Homo sapiens: one gene and its partner. The protein of the gene in region 2 purifies or fractionates together with the protein of the main gene of each other region. This does not show direct contact. Each region holds a gene or a part of one and is shown on either strand. Other genes may lie near its edges.

The links. The genes of interacting proteins can lie anywhere in the genome.
Region 1: the proteins of FGB (region 2) and ADK purify together in Homo sapiens (affinity purification with mass spectrometry; 2 studies listed by BioGRID and IntAct, with this or other methods). This does not show direct contact.

The regions. Positions count from the first base shown.
Region 1 is NC_000010.11:74,525,149-74,528,898, reverse strand, and holds part of ADK (adenosine kinase), read right to left. Parts: intron 3,644-3,750; coding exon 3,473-3,643; intron 1,140-3,472; coding exon of another isoform or gene 1,125-1,139; exon of another isoform or gene 1-1,124. UniProt on the Homo sapiens protein: Catalyzes the phosphorylation of the purine nucleoside adenosine at the 5' position in an ATP-dependent manner. Serves as a potential regulator of concentrations of extracellular adenosine and intracellular adenine nucleotides.
Region 2 is NC_000004.12:154,565,987-154,569,736, forward strand, and holds part of FGB (fibrinogen beta chain isoform 1 preproprotein), read left to right. Parts: coding exon 1-13; intron 14-502; coding exon 503-686; intron 687-1,606; coding exon 1,607-1,834; intron 1,835-2,394; coding exon 2,395-2,508; intron 2,509-3,195; coding exon 3,196-3,321; intron 3,322-3,527; coding exon 3,528-3,750. UniProt on the Homo sapiens protein: Cleaved by the protease thrombin to yield monomers which, together with fibrinogen alpha (FGA) and fibrinogen gamma (FGG), polymerize to form an insoluble fibrin matrix. Fibrin has a major function in hemostasis as one of the primary components of blood clots.

The DNA of each region.
Region 1 (3,750 bases), on a different chromosome or scaffold from region 2:
TCCAATTTCTCCACATCTTCACCAATACTTGTTAATTTCCATTTTTTAAAACAATTGTCATTCTGATGGGTGTGAAGTGGTATCTAATTTTGGTTTTGATTTGCACTTCTTGAATGGTTATGTTGAGCATCTTTTCATGTGTTTACTGGCCATCTGTATATCTTCTTCGAATAAATGTTTATTAAATTCCTTTGATCATTATTGAATTATGTTGTTAGTTTGCTTATTGTTGAGTTGTTACTGTGTTAAATATTCTGAATATGAATCCTTTATCAGATATATGATTTGCAAATATTAACTCCCATTCCACTAGTTGTCTTTTCACATTCTTGTTAGTGTCCTTCGATGCCCAAAAATTGTTAATTTTGATGATGTCTAATTTATCTATTTTTTCCATTTGTTGCTTGTACTTTGGAGTCTTTTTTTTTTTTTTAAGTGAAGATTGTTTTGATATCATCAGCATCTGCTGCAAACTTAAACCACTTTTGGGACTTTCTTTTCTCTTTTGTCTCTACCAAACTTTTAGCATCATTCCCTGATTCTAAATACATTTTCCACCTTCTTTTTACATGTCTTTTACAAATTTGAGCTTTTTTTTTAAGTTTTAAAACTTTTATAAGTTCAGTGTTGTCACTGTATGTTTACATATTCATTGATACAATTTACATCGAGATTTTTACTTATCCATTTTTGCAGATATGTACACAAAGATACATATTCAATAACTGAGAAACAAGTGAAACTTCTGATCTATACTTTCAGGTTTGTTCGATCATGACACTTCTGATAAGGATCATGGACATACCAGTTTCACCTCTTCCAGAAGGACGTCGTCATTTTATCTTAAGAGTTTACTCTGGGTTTTATTGCCGAATACAAATTCCCTCAATCGCTTTTTTCTTGCAGGTGCCTTTTTCCATAATTTTTTCTTATAACCAGCCCTTCTCATCCAAAGGCCACAATGAAGTCGAAGAAACCTATAGATGACAGCTTTCACAATCCTTCTCTTGCCTTTTCCTGTACTGACGTATGTTAGAGATCTGGCTGGCAGCTTCAAGACACTTGGAAGCAAGAGGGCCACTCTATTAAGGATCGCTGAAGTATGCCCACATGTCAGGTTTCTCTCAGATGTGGTAAGTCTGGGAGTGGAGGAAACAACTGGTGTCTGAATATGACTAAAACGTCCAGTGGACAATGCAGAAATAAGAGAGGCATTTTTGACACAGTTTTGGTAGGCTGAAGATGCCAAAATATTCAGAGGCCATAAGATTCCTGAAGCTGCTCTCACTGCACCGGCAAAGGCAGAGGCAGCTATCTCGTTATCCTCCAAATTTGAGCTCTTATTAAAGAGTTTTCTGCGTGCTCTGCTATATTTTTTCAAAAGGTCCCTCCACATTCTCTCCTTAATTAAGATCATTTGTGACTATAAAGTCCAAATAGCATTTTTTATGGCATTCAATCTCCCTAAGCTTTCTTTACTTCCAAAGTTTCATTCTTTGGAATCATATTTATGTTTTTTTTTTTTTGTTTGTTTGTTTTTTGAGACGGAGTCTCGCTCTGTCCAGGCTGGAGTGCAGTGGCGCGATCTCGGCTCACTGCAAGCTCCGCCTCCTGGGTTCACGCCATTCTCCTGTCTCAGCCTCCCGAGTAGCTGGGACTACAGGCACTCGCCACCACGCCTGGCTCATTTTTTGTATTTTAAGTAGAGACGGGCTTTCACCGTGTTAGCCAGGATGGTCTCAATCTCCTGACCTCGTGATCCACCCGCCTCTGCCTCCCAAAGTGCTGGGATCACAGGCGTGAGCCACCGTGCCCGGCCTCTTTGGAATCATATTTATCTTTTTTAAAAGTTTTAAGATTTGTCTCTTAAACTCTAGAGAACTTATTTAAGTGCTGCCAGTCTGATCTTTCTTGACTATTTAGAACTCTGAGACCAAATGTTAACTTCTCCCAATGATTCTCAAGACTACTGAGACCAATGCTTTAATGTTATTCAAAAGGCTTGAATAGCACTTTTCCCATTTACTTCTTTTACCCTTTACAAAATAAAACTGTTAATAAGGAAAAACTAAATGGTAGATCTTAGTCAAATTAGGCTTCTAGCAGTTATATGGCACTTGGCTATTACCACTATTTCTTGCCAGTATCTCAATTTGTGAATTATCAAGAATATAGCATTTCCTTCCAATGTCACCATTTATAACCAATGTAACCATCACCTTTGCAGATACACTGTGATATTATTTCTATGGATCATCCTTTAATCTTTACCCAGGTGATCTCGTAAACTTCCAGGTCAATTTTTATGTTATTCTAGGCAGATGGCAGTTATTAGATATAAAATTGATGAATATATTCAAACTATGTTAGAACTATGGAATTAGAATCAGAATGAACTTCTGGGATGATTAATACAATACCTTCATTGTATACATTAAACCATCAAGTGACATGGCCAAGTCATAGGAAGACACACTGAAGGATTTTTTCCTCTTTCATGGATTTTTAAAGAGGTATAAACAGTAAATAAGAGGTATAAACAGTAAACAAGCAATCAAAGTAAATAAGCATTTAAGTAAATAAGCATTTCCATAATTTAGAATGGAAGAAAATACATTCTTGGTAGAAAGAAAAAACTGTACTTGTTGAGATGAAATTCCATTTTATCACCTTCAACTATAACAGACAATATTTTAAAAATATTATTAATAAAGAAATATAAATGTAATATATCAAAATTTACTCATAATTTATTAAACAAATATCAAATGGACTTAGACTCTGAAGAGACTTAAAAAAGTGATGAATGTGCTTTTTTATCCTGATTGTGGTCATAGTAACAGGACAGGTATCCATCTGTAAAAACTCACAGAAATTACAGTAAAAAGGATGACTCTTACTATAAGTAAATCAAACGTCAAACACCTTAAAAAAATAAATGTTGGGCCGGGCACAGTGGCTCATACCTGTAATCCTAGCACTTTGGGAGGCTGAGGCGATCAGATCACCTGAGGTCAGGAGTTCGTGACCAGCCTGGCCAACATGGTGAAACCCTGTCTCTACTAAAAACACAAAATTTAGCTGGGCATGGTGGCATGCGCCTATAACCCCAGCTACTTAGGAGGCTGAGGCAGGAGAACTGCTTGAACCCGGGAAGGAGAGGTTGTAGTGAGCCAAGATCATGCCATTATACTCCAGCCTGGATGAAAAGAGGGAAACTCCACCTCAAAAAAATAAAAATATAAAAATAAATAAATAAATGCTTCACTAAGAAAGAAGTTAGTATATACTGAAGGAAATATTGAAAATACTGAGAGCAGTTGACATTGAGGCAATTTTGTTGCACAATTCTCAAGGACATTTACACAAAAATTTAGGATTTAATTTATATATTTCTAAACATATATACACACATCAGAAATAAACAAACAAAAAACCCCCAGGTTCTTTTGAAAAAGGAAAGGTAACTCACTGTCTCATTTCCAAAAAGTATATCAACATAAGGCATAACTTTCATCAATGATTCCTTGTAGAACTGGCTAATAAACGGTGCAGATAGATTCAAAGTGAAAATCCTGTTGTTTTCAGAAGCATGGTGAGCCACCTTTAATACTGACTCTGGGGAAACTGTAAGAAAAAAGCCCTGGATGAAGAAAAAAGGAGGGAAAATTAGAAATACCATCTCCACAGTCACTCTCAGTGAGAATAAAAGAAACCTATACAAAATACAAAAGTATATAAAATACAATT
Region 2 (3,750 bases):
TGACCCAGACCTGGTGGGTGCACTGATGTTTCTTGCAGTGGTGGCTCTCTCATGCAGAGAAAGCCTGTAGTCATGGCAGTCTGCTAATGTTTCACTGACCCACATTACCATCACTGTTATTTTGTTTGTTTATTTTGGAAATAAAATTCAAAACATAAACATATTGGGCCTTTGGTTTAGGCTTTCTTTCTTGTTTTCTTTGGTCTGGGCCCAAAATTTCAAATTAGGATATGTGGGTGCCACCTTTCCATTTGTATTTTGCCACTGCCTTTGTTTAGTTGGTAAAATTTTCATAGCCCAATTATATTTTTTCTGGGGTAAGTAATATTTTAAATCTCTATGAGAGTATGATGATGACTTTCGAATTTCTGGTCTTACAGAAAACCAAATAATAAATTTTTATGTTGGCTAATCGTATCGCTGAATTTTCCTATGTGCTATTTTAACAAATGTCCATGACCCAAATCCTTCATCTAATGCCTGCTATTTTCTTTGTTTTTAGGGGGTGTTGTGTCCTACAGGATGTCAGTTGCAAGAGGCTTTGCTACAACAGGAAAGGCCAATCAGAAATAGTGTTGATGAGTTAAATAACAATGTGGAAGCTGTTTCCCAGACCTCCTCTTCTTCCTTTCAGTACATGTATTTGCTGAAAGACCTGTGGCAAAAGAGGCAGAAGCAAGTAAAAGGTAGATATCCTTGTGCTTTCCATTCGATTTTCAGCTATAAAATTGGAACCGTTAGACTGCCACGAGAATGCATGGTTGTGAGAAGATTAACATTTCTGGGTTAGTGAATAGCATTCATACGCTTTTGGGCACCTTCCCCTGCAACTTGCCAGATAAGCACTATTCAGCTCTTATTCCCAGTCTGACATCAGCAAGTGTGATTTTCTATGAAAAATTCTACTATGACTCCTTATTTTAAGTATACAAGAAACTTGTGACTCAGAAGATAATATTTACAGAGTGGAAAAAAACCCCTAGCATTTATAGTTTTAACATTTGAGGTTTTGAATGAGAGAGTTATCCATAATATATTCAATTGTGTTGTGGATAATGACACCTAACCTGTGAATCTTGAGGTCAGAATGTTGAGTGCTGTTGACTTGGTGGTCAGGAAACAGCTAGTGCGTGAGCCTGGCACAGGCATCTCAGTGAGTAGCATACCCACAGTTGGAAATTTTTCAAAGAAATCAAAGGAATCATGACATCTTATAAATTTCAAGGTTCTGCTATACTTATGTGAAATGGATAAATAAATCAAGCATATCCACTCTGTAAGATTGAACTTCTCAGATGGAAGACCCCAATACTGCTTTCTCCTCTTTTCCCTCACCAAAGAAATAAACAACCTATTTCATTTATTACTGGACACAATCTTTAGCGTATACCTATGGTAAATTACTAGTATGGTGGTTAGGATTTATGTTAATTTGTATATGTCATGCGCCAAATCATTTCCACTAAATATGACTATATATCATAACTGCTTGGTGATAGCTCAGTGTTTAATAGTTTATTCTCAGAAAATCAAAATTGTATAGTTAAATACATTAGTTTTATGAGGCAAAAATGCTAACTATTTCTACATAATTTCATTTTTCCAGATAATGAAAATGTAGTCAATGAGTACTCCTCAGAACTGGAAAAGCACCAATTATATATAGATGAGACTGTGAATAGCAATATCCCAACTAACCTTCGTGTGCTTCGTTCAATCCTGGAAAACCTGAGAAGCAAAATACAAAAGTTAGAATCTGATGTCTCAGCTCAAATGGAATATTGTCGCACCCCATGCACTGTCAGTTGCAATATTCCTGTGGTGTCTGGCAAAGGTAACTGATTCATAAACATATTTTTAGAGAGTTCCAGAAGAACTCACACACCAAAAATAAGAGAACAACAACAACAACAAAAATGCTAAGTGGATTTTCCCAACAGATCATAATGACATTACAGTACATCATAAAAATATCCTTAGCCAGTTGTGTTTTGGACTGGCCTGGTGCATTTGCTGGTTTTGATGAGCAGGATGGGGCACAGGTAGTCCCAGGGGTGGCTGATGTGTGCATCTGCGTACTGGCTTGAACAGATGGCAGAACCACAGATAGATGTAGAAGTTTCTCCATTTTGTGTGTTCTGGGAGCTCATGGATATTCCAGGACACAAAAGGTGGAGAAGAGCTTTGTTCATCCTCTTAGCAGATAAACGTCCTCAAAACTGGGTTGGACTTACTAAAGTAAAATGAAAATCTAATATTTGTTATATTATTTTCAAAGGTCTATAATAACACACTCCTTAGTAACTTATGTAATGTTATTTTAAAGAATTGGTGACTAAATACAAAGTAATTATGTCATAAACCCCTGAACATAATGTTGTCTTACATTTGCAGAATGTGAGGAAATTATCAGGAAAGGAGGTGAAACATCTGAAATGTATCTCATTCAACCTGACAGTTCTGTCAAACCGTATAGAGTATACTGTGACATGAATACAGAAAATGGAGGTAAGCTTTCGACAGTTGTTGACCTGTTGATCTGTAATTATTTGGATACCGTAAAATGCCAGGAAACAAGGCCAGGTGTGGTGGCTCATACCTGTAATTCCAGCACCTTGGGAGGCCAAAGTGGGCTGATAGCTTGAGCCTAGGAGTTTGAAACTAGCCTGGGCAACATAATGAGACCCTAACTCTACAAAAAAAAAAAAAATACCAAAAAAAAAAAAAAATCAGCTGTGTTGGTAGTATGTGCCTGTAGTCCCAGCTATCCAGGAGGCTGAGATGGGAGATCACCTGAGCCCACAACCTGGAGTCTTGATCATGCTACTGAACTGTAGCCTGGGCAACAGAGGATAGTGAGATCCTGTCTCAAAAAAAAAAATTAATTAAAAAGCCAGGAAACAAGACTTAGCTCTAACATCTAACATAGCTGACAAAGAGTAATTTGATGTGGAATTCAACCTGATATTTAAAAAGTTATAAAATATCTATAATTCACAATTTGGGGTAAGATAAAGCACTTGCAGTTTCCAAAGATTTTACAAGTTTACCTCTCATATTTATTTCCTTATTGTGTCTATTTTAGAGCACCAAATATATACTAAATGGAATGGACAGGGGATTCAGATATTATTTTCAAAGTGACATTATTTGCTGTTGGTTAATATATGCTCTTTTTGTTTCTGTCAACCAAAGGATGGACAGTGATTCAGAACCGTCAAGACGGTAGTGTTGACTTTGGCAGGAAATGGGATCCATATAAACAGGGATTTGGAAATGTTGCAACCAACACAGATGGGAAGAATTACTGTGGCCTACCAGGTAACGAACAGGCATGCAAAATAAAATCATTCTATTTGAAATGGGATTTTTTTTAATTAAAAAACATTCATTGTTGGAAGCCTGTTTTAGGCAGTTAAGAGGAGTTTCCTGACAAAAATGTGGAAGCTAAAGATAAGGGAAGAAAGGCAGTTTTTAGTTTCCCAAAATTTTATTTTTGGTGAGATTTTATTTTGTTTTTCTTTTAGGTGAATATTGGCTTGGAAATGATAAAATTAGCCAGCTTACCAGGATGGGACCCACAGAACTTTTGATAGAAATGGAGGACTGGAAAGGAGACAAAGTAAAGGCTCACTATGGAGGATTCACTGTACAGAATGAAGCCAACAAATACCAGATCTCAGTGAACAAATACAGAGGAACAGCCGGTAATGCCCTCATGGATGGAGCATCTCAGCTGATGGGAGAAAA